Homo sapiens: one gene and its partners. The protein of the gene in region 3 purifies or fractionates together with the protein of the main gene of each other region. This does not show direct contact. Each region holds a gene or a part of one and is shown on either strand. Other genes may lie near its edges. The genes, in order: ANKRD22, NDC1 and AAAS.

Evidence for each region.
Region 1: the proteins of AAAS (region 3) and ANKRD22 purify together in Homo sapiens (co-immunoprecipitation; one large-scale study listed by IntAct). This does not show direct contact.
Region 2: the proteins of AAAS (region 3) and NDC1 purify together in Homo sapiens (affinity purification with mass spectrometry; one large-scale study listed by BioGRID and IntAct). This does not show direct contact.

What each region holds. Positions count from the first base shown.
Region 1 is NC_000010.11:88,820,811-88,824,468, forward strand, and holds part of ANKRD22 (ankyrin repeat domain-containing protein 22), read right to left. Parts: intron 2,569-3,658; coding exon 2,470-2,568; intron 2,209-2,469; coding exon 2,131-2,208; 3' UTR 1-2,130.
Region 2 is NC_000001.11:53,793,239-53,796,896, reverse strand, and holds part of NDC1 (nucleoporin NDC1), read left to right. Parts: intron 1-92; coding exon 93-208; intron 209-3,617; coding exon 3,618-3,658. UniProt on the Homo sapiens protein: Component of the nuclear pore complex (NPC), which plays a key role in de novo assembly and insertion of NPC in the nuclear envelope.
Region 3 is NC_000012.12:53,309,258-53,311,740, forward strand, and holds part of AAAS (aladin), read right to left. Parts: intron 465-2,483; coding exon 344-464; intron 25-343; coding exon 1-24. UniProt on the Homo sapiens protein: Plays a role in the normal development of the peripheral and central nervous system.

The DNA of each region.
Region 1 (3,658 bases), on a different chromosome or scaffold from region 3:
AAGCCATATTTTTGGAGCACTAAAGTAAAATGGCAAATTGGGACAGATATTGAGGTCTGGAGTCTGTGGATTATTGTTGACTTTGACAAAATAAGCTAGACATTTTCACCTTGTTGCCACAGAGACATAACACTACCTCAGGAAGCTGAGCTGCTTTAAGGACAACAACAACAAAATCAGTGTTACAGTATGGATGAAATCTATGTTAAGCATTCTCAGAATAAGGCCAAGTTTTATAGTTGCATCTCAGGGAAGAAAATTTTATAGGATGTTTATGAGTTCTCCAATAAATGCATTCTGCATTACATAAAGCATGTATGTGCATTTCAGTGTCTAGATTCTAGTCCAAGCTTGTTGGAAGGTTTACAGCTTGTTGCTAGGAGACCTAATGACTAAAAATTTCTGGCTCAATTTTCTGCCTCCAAAAATTAAAAGCTAGGGAGAAAATTGCATAATGTCATGAGCATGATGAAACAAATTGTCATATACTTTATCCTTTAATCTTGACAAAGTTAATGTCAGACAGTCTCTGCAACTCATTGACAAACCATGATTTATTTCTTCAGAAAATTATTCCACTTTTACACAATTTCAAAGATGACAGTTGTAAATTACATTGGTACTATTTTGCAAAATCTCTGAAACCAAATCAAAGGTTTGTGTGTGTCAAAAGTATATTGTTGAAGGTATACTGGTGTGTGAAATTCACTTGTGTGGGTTTTTTGTCCCCAAGGGTCACCTGGTAGCTCAGCTCAATGCCAGTGAATCTTAATTTATTAAGACACGTTTAAAGACTTCAGAATCTATATCTACACACTATTACTTCCTTCATAAAATAAGTTTCTTAAATCCTGTACACAGTTGAATATATATTGCTGGATTTGATTTTCATTAGAGCTTTCAAGGATGGTAAATCTTTCATTCTTATACTGTACTTGTTACCACATACAAAGAGGCTGGCTTAGTTCCTGTCTGCAGCTATGTGAGATTCAGTCTTGATTTTCAAAATTCAGTCATATTTTTAAAGTGAATTTATTTCTACTCTGTGTCATTCACAGAAGAAGTGAGACAGATATTTTGATATTCGCAATCTCTCACTTAGACAAATAATCCAGATCCTACCTCATTGTATAGCTCTGTTTCTTTTGAAGAACTTTATCCAAATAAGTTACAATAATATTTTACATCTATCAATAAAATAAACAAAACTAACAAGCTTGGCAACCACCTTGTATTTACAAAAGGATCATGAAGATTTTTTTAAACGAACATTTTCATAGTTGCATAGTCTTGCTCAAACCAAGATGGCTTTTATTTGTAAACCGAAATCTCTAGTGGTATGCTGGTAAACGAACTTTATGGAAAGTAAAAAACAAAAAAACAAAAACAAACTCTGATTTGTCAATTTGCCAATTTCTGTGGTGTAAACACACTCACCGCTGACACTTGATAGATGTTTTTATTGAAATTCCTTCACCAAAGGAATATTTACTTGTGAATCTCTAAGCCCACACACATACACAAATACCATTCTGTACAAACATACGTATTTAATAATTTGATTCTTCTGCTCAATACTCAAAGGGGGCTGGGAGGAACAGTTTGTCTCCTAGGGCATGACATAGACTGGACAGTCTTTTTATAAGAGTGATACAACTGGGAAGGGAGAACGCTGTTTCAGAAGATAACTCAGATCCTCTTCTTCAGGAAAGACTGAGTTTGGAACACCAGGGCTTTTTTTTTTTTTTTTTTTTTTGAGACAGGGTCTCGCTGTGTTGCCCTGGCTGCTCTCAAACTCCTGAGTTCAAGTGATCCTCCCACCTCAGCCTCCCAAGTAGCTGGGATTACAGGCATGTACCACTGTGCCTAGCTGAAACATCAGTTTCTGACTGAAGTGGAGACTACAACAACTTTAGTGTTTCCCTTAGAAGGATTACGGCCATGGTGAACTTGACTGAGTAAACAATGCTATAAATAAAAAGCTCTTCCAAAACATTAACCATGGTAAGCATCATTATCCCCATAAAATGGTGGCATCCAGGTTAAATGGCCCACAGACCAAAAGTCTAAAATGAAGATAGAATCCAGTCGTTAACTTTTTCTGTATCTCCATCGGTGTGGTCACAAGGATTACAATGCTTTCCTTAGCATTAATTCAATCTGGGAAAATTTTAATCTCCGTGCAATATCCAGTGAGCTCTCACCATGCTGAGGGGGGAAAAATATACAGTTATTTCCAATAGAGTGCCCAAGATCTCGTACGTAGCTTAGACCAATTGACTCTCTGTGTTGGCAAGGGCTTTAAAAGGCAATCAGTCCTAATAGTAATAGGATAACTTCATTCCTTAATGAGGATGATTAATTTTACTGTTGTTTACGTCAGAGGCAAATAATTTACTTCAACATAAGGCCTAGATTAGAAGATGCTGCTGCTAGAGGAACCTCAGACCACGGTCCACCCTCCCTTACCTTATTCTTTATTGTGGGGTCTGCACGGGCTTCCAAGAGCAGAGGGATAAGAGACTGGTTTTTCATTTCACAGGCATAATGTAATGCGGTACAGCCATACTGAAACACAAAGGGCCAAAACTTCAGCTCATAAGTCGGGCCCTCCACAGACCATAGCATGTGGCTTCATTGGCAAATCCTTTTCACACTTTGTAGTATACAACTAAGCAGAAAAATAGTCTGCAAACCATTGATAGACAACTATTTCTAGTACTTAAAAAATTTTTCGCCGGGCGCGGTGGCTCACGCCTGTAATCCCAGCACTTTGGGAGGCCGAGGCGGGCGGATCACGAGGTCAGAGGATCGAGACCGTCCTGGCTAACACGGTGAAACCCTGTCTCTACTAAAAGATACAAAAAATTAGCCGGGCGCGGTGGCGGGTGCCTGTAGTCCCAGCTACTCCGGAGGCTGAGGCAGGAGAATGGCTCGAACCCGGGAGGCGGAGCTTGCAGTGAGCCGAGATTGCGCCACTGCGCTCCAGCCTGGGCGACAGAGCGAGACTCCGTCTCAAAAAAAAAAAAAAAAAAATTTCTTCTCTGTCTCAATGTATATGTATGTTAGTGTCATATAAGCCATCAATCTCTGCCTTTTTGTTTTCCATTTTCTGTTCTAAAGAATGCAACTTAAAAAAGCTGATGCTGAATTGTGCCAAAGTTTCTTTGTCGCATGCTATATGCCTCGGTGATCATCACCTTGATCATGTCACCATCTTTCCCTTAAAGAGTCTCCACATGGCCCTTTACATAAACATTATCCTCTATGGTTTTGGTGATGATTCCTACTGAAGAAGTCGGGTGCTCTTGCTGCAGGACACCTGCAAGATCAGTGCAGTTCTACAGAGACATTTCCCAAACGTGATTTGTTATAGCTTATATTATGTGTTATAAGCTAGTGCATCTACTCTGTTGGTACTAATTTAAAACACTACAGGTCAAAAAAATTATAGCTAGGGCATTAGTGTCCAAAATTTGGCCTTTGGAAAAGTAGCCAAGCAACCATGGTGCTGGTGAGTGAAGAAATAGTACCTTTGGCTATCAAGACAGGTTTAGCTCTGGATCCCATTCCCTAGAAACACCTCTAAAATTATAGGAGATCATGTTGCAATTATTTATTTTTATTAAGTGGTGGCATGACAAATGGAAGTTCTGGC
Region 2 (3,658 bases), on a different chromosome or scaffold from region 3:
GAGAATTATATATTTTTTAAGATTTTAAATGTCATGTTGCAGAGGATCAGACAGCCTAAGTTCTTATCTTGCCTTTTCTTTTTTAAAAATAGATCAGCAAATGACTGAATTTTCTAATCCTTCTCCATCTACCTCTATTAGTGCTGAGGGTAAGACAATGAGACAACCCAGTGTGATTTATTCATGGATTCAGAATAAACGTGAACAGGTAGGATGATATGGTTATAGGATTTATATTTGCATGTAAAATTGAGAACATTAAGGATCTCACATGAGTAAGTCATCAGGAATAAGAAGCTTTTTTTTTTTTTTTTTTATGCTTCGTGTATTGACTCAAATGAAACAGCCAATATTTGACTGGTTTGAGCTATACACATTGTAATTTCATATGACTTGACCTGATAACTTCATGTAAGAAATATTTGAGTTCTTTATATATCCAAGGTGTGCTTTTAGGCACTGGGAAAAAAGCAAACAAAACAGAGTCCTTGCCCATGTAATATTTACATTCGAGTGAGGGGAAATCAGTGAGTAAGCAAATGTATTATATTCTGTTTCTCTGAAATATAAAATATCATTAATTATAAGACTTATGTGCTATTAAGAAAAAAGATGCCTTAACCCATGACGTGCTATTGACTGTAAGATGCATCTCAACAGGTCATATTCAAGATATGGAAAACATGCATAAGAAGGAAGAAATTTGATATAAGTCTTAACTAGAAAAACAGAGCAAGGAAGACAGAGAGTTCCTAAGGGAGAGGGTATCATTTTATGTGGAGTGATAAGGGGAAGTCTCATTGATAAGGCAATGATTGATCAGAGACCTGAAGGGAGAGCTGGGAGCAGCCCAGTGCATCTGAGATGGGAATGGCCTTGGCTTGTGTGAAGAACAATGTGGATACCAGTGTGGCTGGAGCAGAGTGAGTGAGGGGAGAGTGGTAAGTGGGTGATAAGATCAGAAAGGTAGCAGGCACCCAGGGCTCATTGGCTGTAGTAAAGACTGGCTTCATCTCTGAGTGGGATGGAAAGTCACCGTATGGTCTTGCCCACAAGAATGATATGATGTAACTTATATTTTGAAAGTGCTGCTCTAGGGGCTGTGTTGGGACTAAACTCTTGCAAGGTAGGCATGTAAGCCCAGAGACGGTGTTAAGGTGTTAAGTAATCTAGTGGGAGATGGTGGTATCTGGGACCAGAGTGGTAGTGGTGGGGGCTGTAAGATGTGGTCAAGGTCTAGGTATGTATTTTAAGTTAGATGGAATAGGATTAGCTTATGGTTTGGTTGTGGTGTATACTAGAAAGAGTCAGTGTTCACTGGTAAGGTTTTTGGCCTGAAGATCTGGAATAATATAGTTGCAATTTATTGAGTTGGAATTTACTGATGATTCTGGAGAAGGAGATTTGATAGAGGTGAGGGGAGGGAAATCAGGAGTTTGATTTTGGACAAGCCAATTTTGAGATACCTATGAGACAACCAGGTGAAAATACTTAGTAAGAAATTAGGCATATAGCGGTAGTGTAGGGGAAAGTTCTGGGCTAGAAATGTAACTTTGGAAGTTTTCAGAGTATAGATAGTATTCAAAGCATGAGACTCGATGCAAACTCTTGAATGTAAATACAGAAGAAAAGAGATATCCAAGAAAGGGGCCCTCCAATGGCTAAAAGTTTGGGAGATAAAGAATAGCAACAGAGACTGAGGTGGGTAGAAATCCAAGAAAAGAAAGAGTTTCAAGGAGGAGAAGGTGGGAGTGTCAGATGCTGCTGATGGGTAGCATGGGGCGGGAACTAAGAATTAACTGTTGAGCTAGAAATGCGGAGGTCACTGAGTCCTTGACAAGAGCTGTTGGCTGGAGTAGTGGGGACAAAAAAATGCATGAGTTCAGGAGAGATTGGTAGACGAATTGGAGACCACAAGAAAAACCACATTTTTCAAGGAATTTGTTGTAAGTGGAACAGAAAAATGGGGCAATAGCTGGGAGGAATTGAGGGGTCAAGGAACTTTTTTAAAAATTTTGAGATGGGTTCTTGGTCTGTCTGTTGCTCAGGCTGGAGTGCAGTGGTATGATCATGGCTACACTGCAGCCTTGAACTCCCGGGCTCAAGTGATCCTCCCACCTCAGCCTCCTGAGTAGCTGGGACTACAGGTGCCTGCCACCATGCCTGCCTAATTTTTTTAATTTTTATTTTTTGTAGAGACACAGTCTCTATGTTGCCCAGGCTGATCTCAAACTCTTGGCCTCAAGCAGTCATCCTGCCTGAGCCTCATAAAGTGTTGGAATTACAGGCGCGAGCCACCACGCCCAGTCATGTTTTTATTTTTTAAGATGGGAGAAATTATAACATGTTTGCTGATGGAATGACTGATTAATAGGGAATGAATGGTTAAAGGCATTTCATAAACTTCGGGATCCCATACGGCTCTATATGCCATTAGTACTGCCGTGTCACTTTCTACCCAACCAGACACGTGCTGCTTGCTGCAGCCTTCTGACTAGTCATGCAGCTTTGGGTGAGAGTATGGTAGGAGCAGATTCACTTTTAAGTTAGTTGGGTTAGCTTTTAGCTGATACTAAGAACACTTTTTCCCCCGGAATTGTCAACTAGTAGAAAACTACTTTGTGTCTTAAGATATTTTTTTTCCTGTAATCTCAGCACTTTGGGATGCCACAGTGGGAACATTGCTTGAGCCCGGGAATTCGAGACCAGCATGGGCAACATGGCAAAACCCCATCTCTACTAAAAATACAAAAATTAGCTGGGTGTGGTGGTGCATTCCTGTAGTCCTAGCTACTTGGGAGGCTGAGGTAGGAGAATCACCTGAGCCCAGAAAGCAGAGGTTGCAGTGAGCTATGAATGTGCCACTGCACTCCAGCATGGGTGATAGAGTGAGACCCTGTCTCAAAAAAAAAAAGATTTTTTTTTCCCTGTGAGAGAAACATACTCTTTTTTTGGGTATTAAAAGGTTAAAGGGCAGGACAGTTATAGAGAATCGAGAAATAATGTGGCCTTGAAAAATATCTCCAGTCTGTAATCCTAGCACTTTGGGAGGCTGAGGTGAGAGGATTGCTTGAGTCCAGGAGTTTGAGACCAGCCTGGGCAAGATGGTGAGACCCTGTCTGTACAAAAACATTTAAAAATTAACCGGACATGGTGGTGTGCCTGTATTCCCAGCTACCCAGGAGGCTGAGGTGGGAGGATCTGTTGAGCCCAGAAATTTGAGGTGGCAGTAAGCTGTGATCATAAAACTGCACTCCAGCCTAGGTGACAAAGCGAGACCCTGTTTCTGAAATAAAAAAGAAAAAAGAAAAAAGAAAAAAATTTCACCAAAACCACTTAGAATTAATTAATTTTTTTTTATGTCAGGGCTCTAATTTGGGGGTTAAACGTGTATACATGGGAATACAGTTTAGTTGGCTCATCTTGGTTGTCCAATTTGTAGCACAAAGGTATTTAGTTACATGGCGTATTGTTTAAGTATTATTATTCTTTGCCCACAAGATGTGAAGTGTTTCATTTTTTCATTTAAGTTACTGTCTGGAAGAACTAGGAAATGTGTTATATTTGAATAGAATTTAAAAGGTAAATGTGTTAATTCTTCCTTTTTTCCAACTCAGATTAAGAATTTCTTGTCAAAACGGGTGCTGATAATGTATTT
Region 3 (2,483 bases):
GGTCTCTGTTGAGACATCCCATACCTAGGAGAGTGGGGCAGGAGATAAGGGAAAACTCAAGCACCCCATCATCTCACAGTGGGCTGGCCTCTCTAATGTACAAAGAGCCAGAAACGAGAGGAAGCGGGAGAGGGACTGTGAAACATGAGGCACGGGTTCATGCTGACAATTACAGACAGCGGAATTTTAAACCTCACGAGTCTGATGGCAAAGCTCCTCTCTGGGTAAGTTTAAGACTGAATGGACCAAGGTCCCTCCTCCTTCCCCCAAGATGTTTCCACAACCGAGTGAGGAACACTTTTGCCAGGACTGAAATGTGCATGAGGGGCAGGGACCCACTCACCCGGATAGCAGCATCCACGGGTGAAGCTGAGAGCAGCCGCCCCCCACTGGGGGCCCAGGCCAAGCTGGTAACAGGTGTATGCCCAGGGTGAGACAGCACTTGGGCACAGCCAGAAGAGGGTCTGGAGGGGAACACAGAGGATGTGGAGTCAGAAGATGACAAGAAGCCATCCCCAAAATTCTATTTCTTTGCCTCCTGCTAAAACCTCCTATCCTGATGGCCCACTCTGGGCTCAAATCCAGGTTGTGAAAAAGGAATAAGGATTGTGAAAGTTAAAAGAAAAAAACAGCGAAGGGGAAAAACGACCAAGTCACCACGAGCAGGTCAACAGAGAAGAGGTAATCTGCAAGGTCTCAGGCCAGGGTGAAAGAGTGCTTTCACGAGATAGGCCATGAGGCAAAACCTAACCAGTAACCTAGAAGGTACTGCCCCTGGGGCGATATCAGGCCCTACCCCAGAACACAGCTCTCTGCCCACAGGCCATCCAGCCTGGCCATCCATCTATCCAGGATTAATAATCTATGACATTACTTCAAGGTTCCAACCTTTTCTCTCCAGTTATCTAACACTCCTCAGAACACATCCTGTGCTCCCAAACAGCCCTCCTGCCTTGCCTTATCAAAGTACCTCCCAACTCTGCAGCTCCCGCGTTTGCTCCTTATCATAAAGATGCTGCAGGCTGGGCGCAGTGGCTCACGCCTGTAATCCCAGCACTTTGGGAGGCCGAGGTGGGCGGATCACGAGGTCAAGAGATCGAGACCATTCTGGCCAACATGGTGAAACCCCGTCTCTACTAAAAGTACAAAAAAATTAGCTGGGCGTGGTGGTGTTCGCCTGTAGTCCCAGCTACTTGGGAGGCTGAGGCAGGAGAATTGCTTGAACCCGGGAGGCGGAGGTTGCAGTGAGCCGAGATTGCACCACTGCACTCCAGCCTGGCGACAGAGCGAGACTCCGTCTCAAAAAAAAAAAAAAAAAAGATGCAGCATGTGGCTCGGCCTCCATCACCAGCAGGGAACTACCTGAGGGCACCTGCCATGTGTCTGCAGCTGTGTATTTCCAGAGCCATGTGCCTGGCCTGACAGACGAAGGCTACTACCTGAATTAATGCCACCTCTCTTTCCACCTAACTATAACCACCTTCAGCTCCAGTGAAGTCTTAGTCATGGATGTACAATTTAATTCTCTTGAACTTTATGATAAATCACAGCTGCCTTTGCAGGTGGGTTCAGATTCATCTCATTCTTTTCAGTGGCTCCATTGTATACCACTCAATAGATGAACTATAATTTATTGAGTCATGCCTCTACAAATGGACATTTGACTTGTTTGTAATTTTTTATTATACATAATGCTGTAAAAAATATTTCCTGGGCCAGGCATGGTGGTTCACACTCCAGGATGGAGTGCAGTGACACAGTCATAGCACACTGCAGCCTCAAAGTCCTGAGGCTCCTGCCTCAGCCTCTAAAGTAGCTAGGACTACAGGCGTACACCCCACGCCCAGCTAGTTTTTTTATTTTTATTTTTTGTATAGACAGCATCTATGTTGACCAAGCTAGTCTCAAACTCCTAGGCTCAAGCGATCCATCTGCCTCAGCCTCCGAAAGTGCTGGAATTACACGCATGAGCCATCACGCCTGGCCTTGTTTTTTGTTCATTTATTTAAAAAAATTTTTTTAAATCGAGTTCCGCTCTTGTCACCCAGGCTAGAGTACAATGGCATTATCTCAGCTCACTGAAACGTCCACCTCCTGGGTTCAAGTGAATTCTCCTGCCTCAGCCTCCTGAGTAGCTGGGATTATAGGCGCACGCCACCACACCCAGCTAATTTTTGTATTTTTAGTAGAAACAAAAAAAACCAACAACCTTCCAGGCGTGGTGTACGCACCTATAGTCCCAGCTACTTGGCAAGGGGCTCACTTGAGCCCAGGTGTTCAAGGCTGTAGTGTGCAATGATTGAGTCTGTGAATAGCCACTGTATTCCAGCCTGGGCAACATAATGAAACCCCATCTCTAAAAAAACCAAAAAACAGGCCAGTTGCAGCGGCTCATGCCTGTAATCTCAGCACTTCGGGAGGCCGAGGCAGGCGGATCACCTGAGGTCAAGAGTTTGAGACCAGCCTGGCCAATATGGTGAAAC